Linked DNA regions of Homo sapiens: region 1 is linked to region 2. Evidence: fine-mapped expression QTL. Tissue or cell type: whole blood. Region 2 holds a variant in brackets; the other region holds the start of a gene. All regions are shown on one strand. Distances are from middle to middle.

Region 1 (11,702 bases), 43 kb before region 2:
CTAACATGCAACTTCAAACAAGGTACCACCTTTTCCCTGACAAACTTGCAACCATAATTTTAAAAATCATAACTCTTGGTGCTCAAGAACAGTCTTTCTGGGGTTATGCAGTAAAAACACAAGTTTATAGGAATCCCCTCAAACTGACCAAAGCAAAATCTCAGTAGATAGACCCAGGAAGCAAGTTTGGGGAACTCTAATTCAATTGACTGGCAATAGGAGGCAGAAACCAGTTATCCCCCATCCCCATCCTAGTTGATCTTAAGGCAAGCTTGGAAAACATTAAACAATGGTTTTCAATCAGGCTAGACTATTGAATCATTTGGAAGATTTTGAGAAATGCTGACATTTGGGCCCTACCTCCAGAAATTCTGATTTAATCATTGTGGGTTTGGTTTGGGTATAAAAAATTTTAAAGCATCTTTAGGTGATTTTAACATGTAGCCAAAGTTGAGAACTAATGCTCTAAAGATTAGGATAAAATGGGTGTTTGCATGCTTTACAAATAGGAGTAAAAATCGGGTACACCTTTTTTGGCAAACAATTTGGTTGCTTTTTGCTTTCTGTAAAAATAATAGTTTTTACTAAAAATTTCAATTTGTAAACTCATCCTAAAAGTGTAATTTAAATATAGGAAACATTATAAGGAAAAATGTTCTTTGTGCATAATTAATTCAATAACAATATTCGAGATCAATATAACTGCTCAGTTATGGTTTAATAAATAAATTATAGTATGTTCACATAATGGAATACTATACTCACTAAAATGTGTATATAAGTTTTTAATGCCATGGACAAATGTAGTATTAAGAAGGAAAAGCAAGGTATAAAATTGTATTTACTATATAGTCATGGCTATGTTCAAATAAGTATAGTAAAAAGAAAAAAATAGTCTACATTACTAGGGTGAGTATCTTTGAGCTATGAGAGTAATACATTTGGGGGGATTATTTTCTAAGTGTTCTGTATTTTCAAAAATGTAAATATTTATCTCAAATCTAATTTAAAATATTTAGAATATTTTATTGTGGTAAAGTACATAAAACATAAAACTATTTTAACAATTTTTATATGTACAATTCAGAGGCATTAAGTAGATTCATATTTTTGTGCAACCATCACCCTATCCATTTCCAGAAACTCTTCATCATTCCAAACTCAAACTCTGTACCCATAACTACTGTTACTCCTCTCCCCAATCCCTAGTAACTATCATGCTGCTTTCTGAATTTGGCTAGTCTAGGTACCTCATTTAAAAGTGAAATCATACCATATTATTCTTTTTTATCTGGCTTATTTCATTTAGCATAATGTCTTCAAGGTTCATACATGTTGTAACATCTATAAGAATTTCAGGGCAGGGCCGGGCGTGGTGGCTCACACCTATAATCCCAGCTCTTTGGGAGGCCAAGGTAGGTGGATCACCTGAGGTCGGGAGTTCAGGACCAGCCTGACCAACATGGATAAACCCCGTCTCTACTAAAAATACAAAATTAGCTGGGCATGGTGCCTCATACCTGTAATCCCAGCTACTCAGGAAGCAGAGGCAGGAGAATTGCTTGAACCCTGGAGGCAGAGGTTGCGGTGAGCTGAGATTGCGCCATTGCACTCCAGCCTGGGCAACAGAGTAAAACTCCGTATCAAAAAAAAAAAAAAAAAAAAAAAAGAATTTTATTCCTTTTTAAGGCGGAATAATATTCCATTTATGTAAATACCACAGTTTGTTTATCACTTCATTTGTTGATGGACGTTTGGGTTGCTTCCACCTTTTGGCCATTGTGAACAATGCTGTTATGAACAGTAATATACATATCCCTGTTTAAGTACATGATTTCAATGTTGAGGGGTATATACCTAGAAGTGGAATTGCTGGATTATGTGGTAATTTTATGTTTAATTTTTTGAGGAACCACCATAATGTTTTTCACAATGGCTGTACCATTTTACATGCCCACCAGCAATGCACGAGGGTTCCAATTTCTCCACATCCTTAGCATTTTTTACTCACCAAGGTCAACCATTTTATATGGAAATCTTTCTAAAATGTTTCACTCACTTTCCAGACTTCTTAGAAGAAAACTATTGAATAAAATTTAATGGCTTTTTTCATTTAATGACTTATGCATATTGATGTCCACCTCAGGAACTATTGCAATATATCTGTATTTGAGATCTTGCTATGTGCTAGGTACTGTTTTCCAGTTGTTTCCATAGAATAGATCAATCCTTTCAAAATTCTGTAAAGTGTTATCCCCATTTAACAGATAAGTAAATGAGGTACATAGAGGATTTAAAAAAAAAAAAAAAGGCTGGGTGCGTTGGCTACGCCTGTAATCCTAGCACTTTGGGAGGCCAAGGCAGGCTGATCACCTGAGGTTAGGGTTTTGAGACAAGCCTGGCCAACATGGCAAAAGCCTGTCTCTACCAAAAATATAAAAAATTAGTCAGGTGTGGTGGTGCATGTCTGTAAGCCCAGCTCCTCAGGAGGCTGAGGCAGGAGAATCGCTTGAACCTGGGAGGCGGAGGTTGCAATGAGCCCAGATCGTGCCACTGCAGTCCAGCCTGGGCAACAGAGCGAGACACCATCTCAAAAAACAAAAACAAAAACAAAAAACATGCCCAAGATTACATGGTTGTAAGTAAAGACAACAGGATTGAAAGCCATGCCTTTATGTAGTCTACTTGCCATTTAGACTGCTTGTCTCTATATTAAATGTCTCCAAACTATTACTTAATACTCTTAGAAAGTCTGTGTATGCTGTTTAACATTCTGTTTTTTCCTTCTGTTGTTACTCTTTGTGGTTGTAAAAGCACCTACCCCCTAGCCATTTCCTCCTCTTCAGAACACATGTTGATACTGATATCCTGTCATTAAGAAAAATAGACAAAGAAGTGAGTTAAAACTGTGAAAAATCAAAGTCGTAGGTTCTGAGAAAGAATTTGGGGAGGGATAATCTAAGGGTGAAATATATGAGCTTAGGTATTTAGCTTTTACGACATTTATTTTGGTGGTTCAATAAACTATTTTGCTTATTTCTGGCTTTTTTCTTATGTTTTGGCTATGGAATCTGCTATTATGAGTGGCTTCTGAATTTGAGTTCTTACTCTTACTCCTGCTTACATTGTGTAATATAATGTAATTTATTTTTTAAAAAGCTTGCCCCAAAGCAATAAATATCCTTTCAATGTTTGATATTTCCTTTTTTAAAATATCTGCTTAATATTTTCATAATGTACAAAAAGAGAAAATCAAAAATCTTTTGGCATTGAGTATCTGGTCCTACTTCAAGGCTATTCAAACTATAAATTACAGCAACCATCCATATCAGCATTCTGTAAAAATACCTTTACAGAATGCATTATAGGCCAAGGATATATTTTCCAGAAAGAGTAGGCAGTGTTTCTGTCCTTGTGTAACATGTATGTTATAAAATACTGGGCCTTTAACTCTCATAAAATCACACCTACCTATTTCCAATGAAGTAGAAGAGGACACTAGTTAAATAAATACAGCAGTTAGTCTTTCTCAGTATCAAAAATCTTTGCTTTAAAGTGAATTACCAGTATGCTCCCTGCATACCATATGTTCATCCATTTTTCTGGAAATTAAGTTTTTCAATGTCAACATTTCTTAAAGATTTCTTTTTTCACACTTGTGAGATTCTCCTAAGAAACAGGTGAATAAAAGGAGAAAAACTGAAATTGTTCACTGAAAATTCAAAAGGAAAAGATAAATAAAAGGGATTCTGTAAAACATAAAGATTTCTCTAGCAACACAGATCCCCTTAAGTCAATTAATGAATGAATAATAAATATAATTTTTGTATGACTAAGTTTATAATTAATTTCCATCTATATGTTCTAAGTAATTTTATTAAACAAAATCAGAGTGGAGGGAAAATAAGGGAAACAATCCCAAGATTGTCTTGAACAAAACCAGAGAGCTGAACTAGCTGATGGGGGAAATACCTATTACCTTGTCAACAATTTTGTGACTAATTAGTCCTTAAACCTGAGAGAAAAGATCCCACCCAAAGATTTGATTAAATATAAAAACTCTCCTGACTCCAAGGTTTGATCATTTTAACACTGACCTGACGAAAACAGCAATACTGTTCCTAGCAATAAATATACTCAAATTCTGATAATGATTCAACTAACACTTTTAGCATCCTTCCATATTGGATCTTACAAATGTACTATAAACTAACTCTTGGTTTTTGTCACATAAAGAAGGGGCTCTCCATTTGCTTACACCTAACTTCTACTGAACACACAGTTCTGTACAACTTGATCCCTGGAGGTGGGCCTCTGTTCTCTGACCTTTTATTTTTCTAAATTTCTATTACTTTTCTCTACCATTCATCTCAGGATGACTTTATATTGCCTTAAATTTGTTGTAATTTTTTCCATGTATACATTACGTTTTATTATTCTTGAGGACTACCCACATTAACTAAGATAGACTGATTGTATGATGAGATTTAAGTAAATTCTTACTTATCAATTATTAATAAATTTCTTCAAAGAAGAAATTGCCGAGAGTGAGGTATTTTTCAATTCTAATTAAATTATGGGAAACTAGAACAATAAGCCAGTGAATTGTGGTAGAAGCCCAAGCCTGAATTTTCAGCTGTTAAACATCCCCCTCAAAATAATAATAGCTATTTTAAAAAATCAAACTTATTGCAGCTGATATACCATAAATATCAAAAAATTGAAAACTCAACCAGAAGGCATTTCATTCTATTTTATGATAGTCATGAAGCAGTGCAAAAACATTTAAGGAACACTCTGAAGATGGAATAAATGATGTTTTAAGAAACAGAAATAAGAGGATTTACCAAGCAAACAGAATGAAATTAAGAGTAGAGTTGAAAATGGCAAGACAGCTACTATTTTTCAGTTTTATTTTATTTTTAATTGACAACTGTACATATTTATGAGGTACAAAGTGATATTTTGATACACATATACATGTGGAATGATCAAATCAGAGTAATTAGCGTACCCATTATCTCAAATTTTTATCAGTTCTTTGTGGTGAGAACATTTAATAGAAAGTAAATGTATTCTATTGGAAGCTCAAGTTACTGGTTTCCAGCTGTTACAGCTGAAAGAAAGAGGGAGGAAGGCAGGGAGTAATGGGGAAAAGGAGGGAGGGGAAAGAAAACAGAAAAGGGGGAGCGGGAACATGCAATATTCTTTCAGAGTTAAGAAACTTAATCTGACAGGTTTATAGAATTTCGTTGGAACCTAGAGCAAAATCACAATGGCTGAAGCGTCAATCAGGCCTATAAAAACATCTGTGTTTAGTTTAAATGACTAAGGGTGAAATACATCAGCTTATGGAAAATGGGGAGGGCTCCCAGTATTTGGCCAGCGTTCTAGGTGATGGATGTTGATGAGCAATTCCCTTCAACAACTGATTTACTGCCAACGGACAAAATGCTGGAAGCACATCCAAAAACTTATCTGCAATTAAAATTACAAGCAAGTGGTCACTCTGTTCACCTCCTTTACCAGAGAGGTGACCCTGCTCCCGGCAACTACCTCCACCCAAGGGCCACAGAAGAACTCCTCCTTCCTCTAACCCTCTTTCCTTGGCCTCAAACCTCACGGTAAAACCTGCCTTGCTCTGTCTCCCAATCGCTTTTGTAAAGGAAGCTGGGTGTAGAGCTCTTCTTTCTCCCTCCCTTCCTTTTTTCTTTCCTTCCTTCCTTTCTTCCTTCCTTCTTCCATGCCTTTCTGTCTTTCCAAATTCATTGCTTTGTAAGAAACATTCTCAGATCACCTCCACTCCACTAGAAATCCAACGCAGGCGAGTCGGAGTCAAGCACAGGCAGTGGGCGGGTGGCCTCAGCCGGCACCATCTGGCACCTGCGATTCATCGCCACTTTCCATTCGCCCAGAGGTCAGGGGGGCAGCAGGCAAAGGACACGCAGAGCTCGTGTGTCCCAGTTCCTCTGAAACTTTCAGCTGACCGCACCCTCCCCCGACAAACTCTTTAATCATCCATCAAGCTAGAAGAGTACAGTGACCTCTGCCTGGCCTTTGGAGTTTGCAAAAGAAGCAAGCAATAAAAAGCAAGACCAGGTTCGCCCCTTTGCTTCCTCCACCTCCCAAGAGCAGCGCGCAGCGCGGCGGTGCGGCCGGAAGGGGCCGCTGTTTGCTCAGCGCAGCCACCCCGCCGCTGCAGCCGCCGCGGCCCGCACCTCCCACGGCCGGGCTGGTCCAGCCCCGCCAAGTTCCAACAGCCCCCCCTCGAGCGAGCGCCGGGAACGAGCACCACCAGGGCTGGAGCGGACGGCTTTAGAAGAGCCTAGCTGCTGCGCGCGTCGGAGAGGCTCCTGGGAAACTCCCACGGCCCAGGGACTTTCGAAAGCAGAGCGAGGAGCCCTCGCACGCGCTAGTCTGCGAGTGAGCGCTCAGCCCGGCACCTGTTCCTCCAGCGCCGCCGCCTTCCCACCCCTCGGACCCGCGCCGCTCGCGGCGCCCGCCCGTTCCTGCGATGAATCCGGCCCTAGGCAACCAGACGGACGTGGCGGGCCTGTTCCTGGCCAACAGCAGCGAGGCGCTGGAGCGAGCCGTGCGCTGCTGCACCCAGGCGTCCGTGGTGACCGACGACGGCTTCGCGGAGGGAGGCCCGGACGAGCGTAGCCTGTACATAATGCGCGTGGTGCAGATCGCGGTCATGTGCGTGCTCTCACTCACCGTGGTCTTCGGCATCTTCTTCCTCGGCTGCAATCTGCTCATCAAGTCCGAGGGCATGATCAACTTCCTCGTGAAGGACCGGAGGCCGTCTAAGGAGGTGGAGGCGGTGGTCGTGGGGCCCTACTGACCCGCCCTCTGCCCCCGCGGCAACCGCTCCCACGCCTGCCCACTTTGCTAGCCCGGCTGTGCCCCTCACTATCAGAGACTGGGCGAAGCAAACCTGTCGGAGTCAATTATTTCTCTCGACTTCGGCCTTTCGGAAAGAAGCGACCGGTTTCTCCCTCGCCCTCTGAAAGTCCTCATGCCTGGCAGTCGGAGGAGAGCGCCCAGACTCTGAACTCAGCAGAAAGTGGCAAGAAGAGGGCGATTAGGGCGCAGAACTTTGGAAGCTGCTACTTACTTGGAATGCGGGGAGACCGACGGTGCGAAGGCCCTTCTCCACCCGCAGGTGGGCCAAGCTCTGGGGGCAGGTGGAGAGGGCGGGCAGGGGAGAGACCCAGCGGCACTGATCGCCTTGTGACCGGAAGAGTGACCTGTTAAAAGCCACGCAGCAGACTCATGGGGTCTCACAAATCCGTGTCCGGGTGCGCTCCCACTCTTCTCCTGCTCCCCCCCTGCCCTGGAGGGGAGGGGCGATAAATACCTTTGATTGTAACGTGCCGTTTTAAGAGGTTTTGTGTTTGTTTGCTTGAATACAAATGTTTGATAAGTCTTTTTCTGCCCCAGTGGCCTGTTTGCCTGCCTGAGGAGTTACAGTTTTGTCATTGTGGGAGAAGGGGTGGGGGGAGGGGGAGCCTGCGAATTTGAACGGGGTGAGTTGTTTCTTTTAGTGCATTTCCCACTGGGTCTTTTGGGAGGCGTCTAGCGTTCCTGCTGGCCCTGGGACAAAGACCCAGAATAGAACTCGTAGCTCGTGACTGCACGGTTTACGCCACAAAAGTGCTCTTGACATCCGTGACACCGTTTTGACTTTTTGTTTTTTTCTTATTTAACATTTCCTTAATAAATGCAACATTTAAGCGTTTTGTTCCTGGCCTCCTGGTGGTCATTCTGCGCTCCCCAGCAGGGGGGAACGGGGCGGCGGTGAGGAGTCTGGCTCCCGGCCAGGGCAATTAACCCTGGAGAGCTGCGATTCAACTTGTGGATCCCCTGGAGGGGCGAGGGTGGGGCCAGACGGAGAGGCCCTGGGATGACTGAGAAGGAGCCCAGCCTCAGGCACAGTAGCCGTCCTGGAGGCAGCATCCTTTGTTTCCTCTTATCGTGAATATTTTATATTTCATTTAGTCTCAGCTCTCAGGTAGGCGAGACGACAGAAGGGCCCCCGCGGGAAGATTACACTTCCGTGCCAGGCTCCGGCGGGAACACAGGATTACACCGCTAATGAAAGGAAGAGACGGCTTGGACAGCCTTTAGGGAGGGCGTCTCTACCCTAACCAACGTCAGCCAGGCGGCTTTGGGATGCTGCCCACGGGTGGGGCCGGGGGGCGGAGGGAAGGGGAATTATAAAATGCGAGGAAAAGTAGCTGCTAAGGTACACAGTGACGTTAGTGACGTTAATGCTCCCTAGGGTAAACCATTGTTACTAAAACATGAGATGCATTACTGTCGTTGTGATATTACTTTTTCTAGCAAAAAGACCACGTTAAAAGATTCAGCCTGTTCTTTGTAATTTAGTATGCCCCAGACCAGGCAAAGGGTTGAGAGGAGTTAGCCGAGGTCCTGAATGTGGGAGATGAGTATTACAACCCCAACTGGGAAGGATATTTGGAGTAGAACTACAGATGGCCGTTGACACATTTAAGGTTCAGAAATTCAACAGTGTTAGAAAGAAACGCCTAAAAACCGTGCCTGTGAAAATAACCCAAAGGATACAATAGCTTCGAGCATAAACTTGACAAAAGGTTTTGAGCAGTTTATTTTTATGCCTGAGACAGGATCCTAAATATTTTCAAGACTATAAAGAATCCACTAGGATGCTATATAGCAATTAAAATTTCAAAGACTTCACAATGGCAGCTATAAGAGTAACTAAAATCAAATAATAATAAAGTGTTCCATTTACTCAGAAAGAAGCACAACTGGTGTAAACAATGTTAACGACTCAAAGATTGGGATCAAAAGTTTTGAGTGCCTTTAATGTCATATCCACTATTAAGTGTCCATTTCGCTCTCAAGTAAACCTTGTTAGAAATCACAACCTAGGATGGTTTTTTGAATTCTAATGGATATCAGGATTGAGAAAAGAGGATTTTGAAGTTTTGCTTGTTGTTCCTGTCTTTTAAACAGGTAAGGGTTTGTTTGCTTGTTTGTTGTTTTGGTATCTGGGCAGGGGGCAGGGTCAAGAGATAGTCAATAGGTAGTCAGTAGGAGTCTTGGAAAGCAATCTACTTTTGCTAACCGACAGGACAAGAAATGGCAATGTTCTATTTTATAGACAGTTTCTGTGGCACCGAGTTAATCTGCTGCCTGCATGTTTCAAAGGGAGACACAAAGCAGAGCAATGGATTCTCTGGGACAAACCAGACACTTAAAATTTAACTCACGCTGTGGCTGCAACATCCTCTGAGGGTCCCTTCTTCTGGAAGATTTATTAGCTCACCTGTGAATCCAGTACTCTGGTAGAATTCGATTTGGGATAAAAAAACAAATCAGCTAGAGTGTAGAAATCTTGCATTTTACTCTGCTGTGTACGGGCACATGCTTAGAGTTTCAGACACGCGGAGGCTGAAGGAGGGGTCAAACCTACAGGTCAATTTTAAATTGTATAGAACACAGGTTTTCATTTAAAACAAAAGTCCTGAAAGTCCTGAAAGTTGAGAGAGGAGCCAAGGTTGAAGACCTCTATCTTCTCTATCTTGTTCCTCTTAGTATTTCTTCACATCTCTTTCCTCTTCCCTGCATCTCAAAAGCAAAATGCAGTTTCTCTTTATCTCAACTATCCACATTTATTCTCTCACCCCCAGAAATTGTGCATGAAACAAGCCAAAACCTGCAAAATGTAGTCCTTAGATACAAAAGGTATGTGAACACAGCTTTGTAATCTATGATCTATGCACTACAGGGAAATGCACAGTCTGCAATGCACATAGCCCTGGAGACTACTTCCTGCCAACAACACTTCTCTCCAGCCCTTAGATCCATTTGTTACTTAGAGAGATGCCAAGTAGTTCTGGTTTTTATAGATGAGGCAATGTGTGCAAGAAGCTTTTTACACTCTCTATTCCCCGATGGCCACAGAGCAACCACTTTCTGGGGCCACACCACTCCCTCTTTCACTCTGCCTTTGACTCTCTTTGTCCCTCATTCTAACAACTGCTTTAAATGAAACATTTTAATCCTGCTCAGAATTTATGGAGTGTCGGTCCTTTCCCAGAGACATTCTCTAAGAAAAAAAGGTTTTGAAAGCCATTGTCTGTGTTTCACCTAAGAAAACAATGTCAGCCTTAAGAGACCAGAAGTTTAGATACATAAATTTAACAGGCAGGTTCTACCATGCCACACTGAAGTCCACCATTTGGTCAGTAATTAGTGGGAGTCCCTGAGAGACAGAGACAGATTCCTCTAAAAGCTTGCTTGATCTGACATGGCCCAGGGGGACTTATCTGATATTTCCTGAAGCCCTTCTGGAAATACAGCAAATGCAGGGAGAAGTTTTCATGAAACACAGCTGGTGGATTAGTGGGATCTCAGGCTGGGCAGACAGCTAGTGATACCTCTTAGCTTAATTGGGTGGCCTCTGTATAAGTAGCTTAACCAATTGTTGATAAGTGTTCTTAAGATTGTTGATACGAATCTCCCCACTCTCTCTGAAAATGTAGCAAGAGCTTGAGTGCTGGACAGCTTTAAGGAAGTGAAAGCAGAGGTCACACTACTCTGTCAAGTCTGAGATCACACTAGTTCCTGGTAGATGGTCCATGATTTCTGATTTCCAAGCCATCCTGGCTTCTCACTGGATGCAAGTCAATCCTGCTACTGTGTCTTCCTATACTAACTCTGAATTAGGAAGGGAAAGACACACTGGGCTGAGATTTTAGAAATTTTGGTTCTGGTCACTAAGCAGCTGAATGGCCTGATCCCTAAAATAAGGAAGAGGGGTTCTAAAGAACCTTCCAATTCTATGATTCCATTGAATTAATTGGTTTAACGTGTTCTCTCTTAAGATGTTTCATAAATCTCTTAATTATGTGTCTTAAAAATATATTTTATCTTTCCAGTCTTGATCTTTTGTGTAGATGTTTTTCTCACAAAAGACAAGTGCTCCTCTACTGGAAATAAGTTATTTACAATAATCAAAGCAAAATTTCAGACACCTAGCCAGGCCAGAGTAGATGACAGTTTTTAACCTGATCGATTACGCATGATCTCACCAGCACCTTAAATTTCCAGGTCTCTGCGTTCTCAAAGGACAAAGCCATGAAAGTAAAGCCCATTGTACTGGGGAGTAAGCAATTCTTCTAGGTACGCATTCAGACTAATATGCACTGTTGTTTATAGAAACTACTAGGGTGTTTGAAGACTCTTTAACATCCACTTTTTCTCCCTAAAGCATTTTTCCTTTTGAGTTTCTGCAACAGCACACAGCACCTGTTCCACATGCAGTTTAGAGCCTTCCTTAACCCTGGCTTATTTTACTTCTCACTTTGGGGGTTACAATGACAGGAAAGATTCCAGGGTTCGGTTTGTTCTGTAAGACTCAAACCTAATTTGAAAGCCTGTGGAAGCAGCAAGTCTGCAGCAATCCTCCAAACAGGAATCAACAAATATTTTTTCTACCTGTCAAATCCCATGTAGACCTATGCACAATAGCTCAAATGGGATATGTTTTAAAAGCAGCTGCCTCAGTAGTAATTGTTTCCTAATGTCTGAATTTAAATGCTCAATAGTAAGTTGTTTCCATGGCCAATCTCACTTTGTTCTCATTTCCTGATATTTTTGTGTTGTTTTAAATGTTTAAAAGACTTGAAAGTCCAGGATTAACTTTCAGA
Region 2 (11,702 bases):
ATACAAAATCAATGTGCAAAAATCACAAGCATTCCTATATACCAATAATAGACAAGCAGAGAGTCAAGTCATGAGTGAACTCCCATTCACAATTGCTACAAAGAGAATAAAATACCTAGGAATACTACTTAAAGGGATGTGAAGGACCTCTTCAAGGAGAACTGCAAACCATTGCTCAAGGAAATAAGAGAGGACACAAACAAATGGAAAAATATTCCATGCTCATGAATAGGAAGAATCATTATGGTGAAAATGGCCATACTGCCCAAAGTAATTTATGGATTCAATGCTATCCCCATCAAGCTACAATTGACTTTCCTCACTGAATTAGAAAACACTACTTTAAATTTCATATGGAGCCAAATAACAGTGTGTATAGCCAAGACAATAGTAAGTAAAAAGAACAAAGCTGGAGGCATCAGGCTACCTGACTTCAAACTATACTACAAGGCTACAGTAACCAACACAGCATGGTACTGGTACCAAAACAGATATATAGACCAATGGAACATAATAGAGGTCTCAGTAATAATGCCACACATATACAACCATCTGTTTTTTGACAAACCTGATACAAACAAGCAATGAGGAGAGGATTTCCTATTTAATAAATGTCATTGGGAAAACTGGCCAGCCATATGCAGAAATCTGAAACCGGACCCCTTCCTTACACCTCATACAAAAATTAACTTAAGATAGATTAAAGACTTCAATGCAAAACCTAAAACCATAAAAACCCTAGAAAAGAACCTAGGCAATACCATTCCAGACATGGCCATGGACAAAGACTTCATGACTAAAACACCAAAAGCAATGGCAACAAAAGCCAATATTGACAAATGGGATCTAATTAAACTAAAGAGCTTCTGCACAGCAAAAGAAACTATCATCAGAGTGAAGAGGTAACCTACAGAATCGGAAAATTTTTTGCATTCTATACATCTGACAAAGGGCTAGTATCCAGAAGATACAAAAAACTTAAATTCAAAAGAAAAAAAACAAACAATACCAACAAAAAGTGGGCAAAGGATATGAACAGACACTTGTCAAAAGAAGACATTTATGAGGCCAACAGACATATGAAAAAAAGCATATCATCACTGGTCATTAGATAACTGCAAATCAAAACCACAATGAGATACCATCTCATGCCAGATAGAATGGCGATCATTAAAAAGTTAGGAAAAAACAGATGCTGGAGAGGATGTGGAGAAATAGGAACACTTCTACACTGTTGGTGGGAGTGTGGATTAGTTCAACCATTGTGGAAAACAGTGTGGTGATTCCTCAAGGATCTAGAACCAGAAATACCATTTGACCCAGCAATCCCATTACTGGGTATATACTCAAAGGATTATAAATCATTCAACTATAAAGACACATGCACACATATGTTTATTGCAACACTGTTCACAACAGCAAAGACTTCAAACCAACCCAAATGCCCACCAATGATAGACTGGATAAAGAAAATGTGGCACATATACACGACGGAATACTATGCAGCCATGAAAAAGGATGAGTTCATGTCCTTTGCAGGGACATGGATGAAGCTGGAAATCATCATTCTCAGCAAACTAACACAGGAACAGAAAACAAAACAATGCATGTTCTCACTCATAAGTGGGAGCTGAACAATGAGAACACATGGACACAGGGAGGGGAACATTACCCACTGTGGCCTGTTGGGGGTGGGGGGCTAGGGGAGGGATAGCATTAGGAGAAATACCTATGTAGATGACGGGTTGATGGGTGCAGCAAACCACCATGGCAAGTGTATACTATGTAACAAACCTGCACATCCTGCACAGAACTAAAAGTATGTTTTAAAAAGTATAAGTAGGCCAAGACGGCCGAATAGGAACAGCTCCAGTCTGCAGCTCCCAGCGTGAGCGACACAGAAAACGGGTGATTTCTGCATTTCCAACTGAGGTACCGGGTTCATCTCACTGGGGAGTGCCGGACAGTGGATGCAGGACAGTGGGTGCAGTGCACCATGTGTGAGCCGAAGCAGGGAAAGGCATCGCCTCACCCAGGAAGCGCAACAAGTCAGGGAATTCACTTTCCTAGTCAAAGAAAGGGGTGACTGATGGCACCTGGAAAATTGGGTCACTCCCACCCTAATACTATGCTTTTCCAACAGGCTTAACAAACGGCACACCAGGAGATTATATCCCACACATGGCTGAGATTGTCCTATGCCCACGGAGCCTTCCTCATTGCTAGCACAGCAGTCTGAGATCAAACTGCAAGGTGGGAGCAATGCTGGGGGAGGGGCACCTGCTATTGCCCAGGCTTGAGTAGGTAAACAAAGCAGCCAGGAAGCTCGAACTGGGTGGAGCCCACCACAGCTCAAGGAGGCCTGCCTGCCTCTGTAGACTCCACCTCTGGGGGCAGGGCACAGACAAACAAAAGGCAGCAGTAACCTCTGCAGACGAAAATGTCCCTGTCTGACAGCTTTGAAGAGAGTAGTGGTTCTCCCAGCACGCAGCTGGAGATCTGAGAACAGGCAGACTGCCTCCTCAAGTGGGTCCCTGACACCTGAGGAGCCTAACTGGGAGCCACCCCCAAGTAGGGGCGGCTGACACCTCACACCACCAGGTATTCTTCTGAGACAAAACTTCCAGAGGAACGATCAGGCAGCAGCATTTGCGGTTCACCAATATCTGCTGTTCTGGAGCCACTGCTGCTGATACCCAGGCAAACAGGGTCTGGAGTGGACCTCCAGCAAACTCCAACAGACCTGCAACTGAGGGTCCTGACTGTTAGAAGGAAAACTAACAAACAGAAAGGACATCCACACCAAAAACGCATCTGTACGTCACCATCATCAAAGACCAAAGGTAGATAAAACCACAAAGATGGGGAAAAAACAGAGCAGAAAAACTGGAAACTCAAAAAATCAGAGCGCCTCTCCCCCTCCAAAGGAACACAGCTCCTCACCAGCAACAGAACAAAGCTGGATGGAGAAAGACTTTGATGAGAGAAGAAGGCTTCAGAAGATCAAACTACTCTGAGCTAAAGGAGGAAGTCTGAACCAATGGCAAAGAAGTTAAAAACCTTGAAAAAAAATTAGATGAATGGTAACTAGAATAACCAATGCAGAGAAGTCCTTAAAGGACCTGATGGAGCTGAAAACCATGGCACGAGAACTACGTGATGAATGCACAAGCCTCAGTAGCCAATGCGATCAACTGGAAGAAAGTATATCAGCGATGGAAGAAGAAATGAATGAAATGAAGCAAGAAGAGAAGTTTAGAGAAAAAAGAATAAAAAGAAATGAACAAAGCCTCCAAGAAATATGGGACTATGTGAAAAGACCAAATCTACATCTGATTGGTGTACCTGAAAGTGATGGGGAGAATGGAATCAAGTTGGAAAACACTCTGCAGGATATTATCCAGGAGCACTTCCCCAATCGAGCAAAGCAGGCCAACACTCAAGTTCAGGAAATACAGAAAATGCCACAAAGATAATCCTCGAGAAGAGCAACTCCAAGACACATAATTATCAGATTCACCAAAGTTGAAATGAAGGAAAAAATGTTAAGGACAGCCAGAGAGAAAGGTCAGGTTACCCACAAAGGGAAGTCCATCAGACTAACAGCTGATCTCTCAGCAGAAACTCTACCAGCCAGAAGAGAGTGGGGGCCAATATTCAACATTCTTAAAGAAAAGAATTTTCAACCCAGAATTTCATATCCAGCCAAACTAAGCTTCATAAGTGAAGGACAAATAAAATACTTTACAGACAAGCAAATGCTGAGAGATTTTGTCACCACCAGGCCTGCCCTAAAAGAGCTCCTGAAGGAAGCACTAAACATGGAAAGGAACAACCGCTACCAGCCACTGCAAAAACATGCCAATTGTAAAGACCATCGAGGCTAGGAAGAAACTGCATCAACTAATGAGCAAAATAACTAGCTAACATCATAATGACAGGATCAAATTCACACATAACAATATTAACCTTAAATGTAAATGGGCTAAATGCTCCAATTAAAAGACACAGACTGGTAAATTGGATAAAGAGTCAAGATCCATCAGTGTGCCGTATTCAGGAAACCCATCTCACATGCAGAGACACACATAGGCTCAAAATAAAGGGATGGAGGAAGATCTACCAAGCAAATGGAAAACAAAAAAAAGCAGGGGTTGCAATCCTAGTCTCTGATAAAACAGACTTTAAACCAGCAAAGATCAAAAGAGACAAAGAAGGCCATTACATAATGGTAAAGGGATCAATTCAACAAGAAGAGCTAACTATCCTAAATATATATGCACCCAATACAGGAGCACCCAGATTCATAAAGCAAGTCCTGAGTGACCTACAAAGAGACTTAGACTCCCACACAATAATAGTGGGAGACTTTAACACCCCACTGTCAACATTAGACAGATCAATGAGACAGAAAGTCAACGAGGATATCCAGGAATTGAACTCAGCTCTGCACCAAGTGGACCCAATAGACATCTACAGAACTCTCCACCCAAAATCAACAGAATATACATTTTTTTCAGCACCACACCACACCTATTCCAAAATTGACCACATAGTTGGAAGTAAAGCACTCCTCAGCAAATGCAAAAGAACAGAAATTATAACAAACTGTCTGTCAGACCATAGTGCAATCAAACTAGAACTCAGGATTAAGAAACTCACTCAAAACCACTCAACTACATGGAAACTGAACAACCTGCTCCTGAATGACTACTGGGTACATAACGAAATGAAGGCTAAAATAAAGATGTTCTTTGAAACCAACGAGAACAAAGACACAACATACCAGAATCTCTGGGACACATTCAAAGCAGTATGTAGAGGGAAATTTATAGCACTAAATGCCCACAAGAGAAAGCAGGAAAGATCCAAAATTGACACCCTAACATCACAATTAAAAGAACTACAGAAGCAAGAGCAAACACATTCAAAACCTAGCAGAAGGCAAGAAGTAACTAAGATCAGAGCAGAACTGAAGGAAATAGAGACATGAAAAACCGTTCAAAAAATCAGTGAATCCAGGAGCTGGTTTTTTGAAAAGATCAACAAAATTGATAGACTGTTAGCAAGACTAATAAAGAAAAGAGAGAAGAATCAAATAGACGCAATAAAAAATGATAAAGAGGATATCACCACCGATCCCACAGAAATACAAACTACCATCAGAGAATACTACAAACACCTCTATGCAAATAAACTAGAAAATCTAGAAGAAATGGATAAATTCCTGTACACATACACCCTCCCAAGACTAAACCAGGAAGAAGGTGAATCTCTGAATAGACAAATAACAAGCTCTGAAGTTGAGGCAATAATTAATAGCTTACCAACCAAAAAAAGTCCAGGACCAGATGGATTCACAGCCGAATTCTACCAGAGGTACAAGGAGGAACTGGTACCATTCCTCCTGAAACTCTTCCAATCAATAGAAAAAGAGGGAATCCTCCCTAACTCATTTTATGAGGCCAGCATCATCCTGATACCAAAGTCTGGCAGAAACACAACAAAAAAAGAGAATTTTAGACCAATATCCTTGATGAACATCGATGCAAAAATCCTCAATAAAATACTGGCAAAACGAATCCAGCAGCACATCAAAAAGCTTATCTACCATGATCACGTGGGCTTCATCCCTGGGATGCAAGGCTGGTTCAACAAACGAATATCAATAAACATAATCCAGCATATAAACAGAACCAAACACAAAAACCACATGATTATCTCAATAGATGCAGAAAAGGCCTTTGACAAAATTCAACAGCACTTCATGCTAAAAACTCTCAACAAATTAGGTATTGATGGCACGTATCTCAAAATAATAAGAGCTATCAATGACAAACCCACAGCCAATATCATACTGAATGGGCAAAAACTGGAAGCATTCCCTTTGAAAACTGGCACAAGACAGGGATGCCCTCTCTCACCACTCCTATTCAACATAGTGTTGGAAGTTCTGGCCAGGGCAATCAGGCAG[G/C]AGAAGGAAATAAAGGGTATTCAATTAGGAAAAGAGGAAGTCAAATTGTCCCTGTTTGCAGACGACATGACTGTGTATCTAGAAAACCCCATCATCTCAGCCCAAAATCTCCTTAAGCTGATAAGCAACTTCAGCAGTCTCAGGATACAAAATCAATGTGCAAAAATCACAAGCATTCTTATACACCAATAACAGACAAACAGAGAGCCAAATCATGAGTGAAATCCCATTCACAATTGCTTCAAAGAGAATAAAATACCTAGGAATCCAACTTACAAGGGACGTGAAGGACCTCTTCAAGGAGAACTACAAACCACTGCTCAAGGAAATAAAAGAGGATACAAACAAATGGAAGAACATTCCATGCTCATGGGTAGGAAGAATCAATATTGTGAAAATGGCCATACTGCCCAAGGTAATTTATAGATTCAATGCCATCCCCATCAAGCTACCAATGACTTTCTTCACAGAATTGGAAAAAAACTACTTTAAAGTTCATATGGAACCAAAAAAGAGCCTGCATCGCCAAGTCAATCCTAAGCCAAAAGAACAAAGCTGGAGGCATCACGCTACCTGACTTCAAACTATATTACAAGGCTACAGTAACCAAAACAGCATGGTACTGGTACCAAAGCAGATACAGACCAATGTAACAGAACAGAGCCCTCAGAAATAATGCCGCATATCTACAACTATAAGATCTTTGACAAACCTGACAAAAACAAGAAATGGGGAAAGGATCCCCTATTTAATAAATGGTGCTGAGAAAACTGGCTAGCCATATGTAGAAAGCTGAAACTGGATCCCTTCCTTACACAGTATACAAAAATTAATTCAAGATGGATTAAAGACTTACAGGTTAGACCTAAAACCATAAAAACCCTAGAAGAAAATCTAGGCAATACCATTCAGGACATAGGCATGGGCAAGGACTTCATGTCTAAAACACCAAAAGCAATGGCAACAAAAGACAAAATTGACAAATGGGATCTAATTAAACTAAAGAGCTTCTGCACAGCAAAAGAAACTACCATCAGAGTGAACAGGCAACCTACAAAATGGGAGACAATTTTTGCAACCTACTTATCTGACAAAGGGCTAATATCCAGAATCTACAATGAACTCAAACAAATTTACAAGAAAAAAACCAAACAACCCCATCAAAAAGTGGGCAAAGTATACGAACAGACACTTCTCAAAAGAAGACATTTATGCAGCCAAAAAACACATGAAAAAACTCATCATCACTGGCCATCAGAGAAATGCAAATCAAAACCACAATGAGATACCATCTCACACCAGTTAGAATGGTGATCATTAAAAAGTCAGGAAACAACAGGTGCTGGAGAGGATGTGGAGAAACAGGAACACTTTCACATGGTTGGTGGGACTGTAAACTAGTTCAACCATTGTGGAAGTCGGTGTGGCGATTCCTCAGGGATCTACAACTAGAAAGACCATTTGACCCAGCCATCCCATTACTGGGTATATACCCAAAGGATTATAAATCATGCTGCTATAAAGACACATGCACATGTATGTTTATTGCAGCACTATTCACAATAGCAAAGACTTGGAACCAACCCAAATGTCCAACAATGATAGACTGGATTAAGAAAATGTGGCACATATACACCATGGAATACTATGCAGCCATAAAAAATGATGAGTTTATGTCCTTTGTAGGGACATGGATGAAGCTGGAAACCATCATTCTCAGCAAACTATTGCCAGGACAAAAAACCAAACACCGCATGTTCTCACTCATAGGTGGGAATTGAACAATGAGAACACATGAACACAACAAGGGGAACATCACACACCGGGGACTGTTGTGGGGTGGGGGGAGCAGGGAGGGATAGCATTAGGAGATATACCTAATGCTAAACGACGAGTTAATGGGTGCAGCACACCAACATGGCACATGTATACATATGTAACAAACCTGTACGTGGTGCACATGTACCCTAAAACTTAAAGTATAATAATAATAAAATTAAAAAAAAGTATAAGTAACTATCTGATAAGGCCATTATTTCTAATTTTTTCAAATATATGTTCGGATTTAATGATGTTAAAACTCTTCTCTTTTGAGGGTAAAAAGTTGTTGAAGTACATGGAGAGTTGGTTCAATTTTTTAATTTAAAAGATGAAGAAAATTCCTGCTCCGCTAAACTCTACCTTCTCTAGGTATTTGCTAAGGATTTTTTTTGCAAAGAATATGCTGACTCTGTAATTAAAAAAATGTATTATTAAAGTCTGAAACTTTACTTAGAAGTTATGTGGAATAGTTAATATTTATTTGAAAAAACAAGCATTAATAGGGAATGAGAAAAGAAAACAAAGTTAACGTGTACAGTATTCTATAAGAATAATGACACCAGGATAAGAGGATTGCCAAAGCCTAATTTGGAGTGGAAAATTAATTATCAAAGGTGTTACATATAATTGTCCACTAAATTATACTTGACATTAAATCAAGGGGAAATAAAAACACCTTAAATCATCCCATTGCCACTTCATGTGAACTATGAAAGAATGTGGTAGATCAGAACCTTCTAAGACCACAATTTCTTATTTTTTAAATGAGGGTAGCAAGATTGAATCCTGTTTCAAGTTCTCCTTTGAAATCAATGATGAGACTTTTTATTTTTACAATTTCCTCTCTTCTTAGAATAAATAGTCTCTTCATTTACTCTCACACAAAATTTCTCTAATTATTTCCATATTCTCTTACAGTAAGGCTTGACCTCTGAGCTTGTATTACTAGATAATATAGAGGAGAGTCTCCAAATGCTTGGAGTGTCTATGTATATGCCTGTGTGTGTGTGCACGTGCATGAGTGCGTGTTATGTGTGTTTAGCCCCCAAGAAGAAAAAATAAAAGACACTGCAAAAATTAGGTAGGTCATTAAATCAAGTAGGATTTTATGAAACTATTTTACAAATCATTCTGTTTGATGGACATTTATTATCTTTAAGAGGTAAGTTTAATCTAGGTGAAGTTATTTTCTGCCTTATTTTTAAATCATAATGTTGATTAAATCTTCAATAAAACAACTAAAATGAAACGTTGCACTGATTGCAATGCCCCCCAACCACCTCCCCACCCCCCAGCCAAAAACTCTGCAAAGGGTTTCTGTCAGAAAAACAGTCCAGAAGAAAAGGTGACAACTAGATCAGGTGGATGACAAGCAGCACTGGGGGTGGGGGATGGGGCAGAAGCTTCTGCCAAGCAATAGGTGAAACTTGAAACCCAAGTGTGTATTAATCTGAATCACTTGTCAACTTGTAGGGTCACTGACCTTGAAGAAATGAATTTATTTCCTGGTCAAATACTTTCTGAAAAGGTGCTCACATTTTAATCAATTTTCAGGCCCTCACTAAAGTCCAGATTAATTTGTGCAGCTCGAAAGTTAATTAAACCCCTTCTTCCAACAAAACAGATTCATTCCAAACCATTTGATTCCTGCTTATGACCATTTCTTAAAAATGCTTTTGAAAAAAATCCACTGGTGGTAACAGCAACTGAGGATCCCTGGGAGCCCTGGAGTTGTTGTTCACAGTCTTTGGAATACTATCCTGTGGCTTTTAGATAGGAGTGTTAACAATTTTCAACAACACACAAGTGTACTATTGACCTCTGTAAGAATCCACTCTAGGAAGCAAGGTTGTTGATTTCATGGAAATTGAAAAATCACAAATTCCTTCTCCTTTTTTTTCCCATTTCCAGTTATCTTAATATTTCCCAAACCAGAACACTAAAAAAGAAACAAAAAAATTAATTATTTAAAGATGTTATACAAGAAGAAAAAGTAGTTTGAAGTCTGAGTGTTCCTGGAAGTTTAAAATGTTCTTGCATATTTTTTAAAGCTTCCTAGGAGCTATTACAGCTGCAATACTTGAGGGAGAAATAAATGAAGTATGAATATGTGGTCCAATATAATGTGATTGTCTTCTGGCTGTAAATTCAACTGTCTTCACTGATTGTTGAGAAAGCAATGGTGTTATACATGTAACTGATTACTTTTTATAGCCATTCTGTGTGAAATATATTAGATGTTTAAAAGAAATGGGTGATCCCTTTCACAAAGATCTGAAAAAGGCAAACCCTCTCCATCATTTGACAGATGCAGAAAGCTGGAGAATGGCCTCCAATCCCATGCTAATTGTCTGTCCAGTAGAGCTCTCCTGTGAGGCAAAATGAGGGGCTAGAAGCCTAGAAAGGGAGCAGGAGGTTGAGCAGCACTTGCTGTGTCTTTTGTAATCAGATGAACATGGTCTCGAGAACCAAGGGGCAAAACTACTGCTAACTTCTTTGCTGTTTTTGTGCAATTGTAATTTAAATCAAGCCAAGTGTATACCTAGGTGAGGTTCTGTCCCTGCTCTCATCTGAAAAGCCACTATTGACAAGCTCAATTTTAGGATGGTCATTTATTAGCTGAAAGACATCTACACATGGCATGCCTCACGATCACCTCTATCACACTGAGTTTCAAAGCCAAAATAATGGTGAGCTCAGCAGAAAAAATCTGGAAAGATGCTCAAGGCCTAAGACAAAAAAGAAAGGGCAAAATTAGGTTATTAACTTAAACTAGGCAACTATAACATCAGTAAAAATTGTCCTAGTAAAATACAGTATACCTAATTATGTCAACTTTTTTTGTTTTTTTTTTTTTTTGACAGAGTCTCTCTCTGTTGCCTAGGCTAGAGTGCAGTGGCACAATCTCGGCTCACTGCAACCTCCGCCTCCCAGGTTCAAGTGATTCTCCTGCCTCAGCCTCTAGAGTAGCTGAGATTACAGGCATGTGCCACCATGCCCAGCTAATTTTTGTATTATTAGTAGAGACGGGGTTTCACCATGTTGGCCAGGCTGGTCTCGAACTCCTGACCTTGTGATCCGCCCACCTCAGCCTCCCAAAGTGCTGGAATTACAGGCGTGAGCCACCATGCCTGGCTACGTCAACTTTTAAATATCATTCCTCTTATAATCCTAAATAGTTTAAACCCTATATAGAAATATAAGAGCTGGTGAGGATTTCAATTTAAGCAATTTATTTCCTTTATAAAATTTTAAATGAGTAGCTCAAGCAGGGGTCTTATATCAAAATAACATAACTATCCTCAGGTGAGTTCTCTATACCCAGGATATAAGCAGTTTATTGACATATTCAAATATATGAAGCAACTGTCATGGCAGAGCATCCGAGATCAATGGATACTTAAAGACTCAAGAGATCTGTGATCCCCCTGAAATTATAAGCTAGACTTAGTCTCTCTCTCTCTCTCTCTCTCTCTCTCCCTACCTACCTATCTATTAATACCTATCATTTGCATTTTAGGGGACAGGAAGCCATTAGTATTAATGAAAATCTTAAAAGAATACACCACGTGTAACTTTATAAGTCACATATGTAAAGGGTTACTTGTTACAAAATTAAATGTTATTTTTAAAATATCTAATTATGCTACAACAGCAGATGGTATCATAAAAACTCACAACCTATAACAGTTTAGCAAACTTTCACTAATTTTTGTTTCCCCCACAGAAAAAAAAAAATTAAAATTGGCTATTTATTTTGAAAATTATGCCTCCATTTGTTTCTTAGAAGTCATGTGCTCTAGGGTTCAAAGTATGTACAAATCTTCTCAAACCTCAATAGTCCATGTTGCTATCTCTGTATATAATTACACATTTAATAAGTCCAATCTAAAACTCTCATCACTTA

The links. PIP is the estimated chance that this variant, and not a neighbour inherited with it, causes the effect.
Region 1: RPRM starts here. The variant in region 2 is fine-mapped to the expression of RPRM in whole blood (INTERVAL, PIP above 0.99).

The regions. Positions count from the first base shown.
Region 1 is chr2:153,473,378-153,485,079 of GRCh38, reverse strand. RPRM (reprimo, TP53 dependent G2 arrest mediator homolog) reads left to right here and starts at 6,318. Exons shown (of 1, transcript NM_019845.3): 1 at 6,318-7,742. The coding sequence starts at 6,515. The coding sequence ends at 6,844. It also overlaps a transcript of GALNT13 not described here. RefSeq lists a silencer at 6,084-6,283 and enhancers at 6,640-7,143, 7,144-7,647, 7,648-8,151.
Region 2 is chr2:153,430,100-153,441,801 of GRCh38, reverse strand. It overlaps a transcript of GALNT13 not described here. Among named protein-coding and RNA genes, the nearest start is that of RPRM, 43 kb to the left of the region's middle. The variant G/C (reference allele first, on the strand shown) is at 5,975.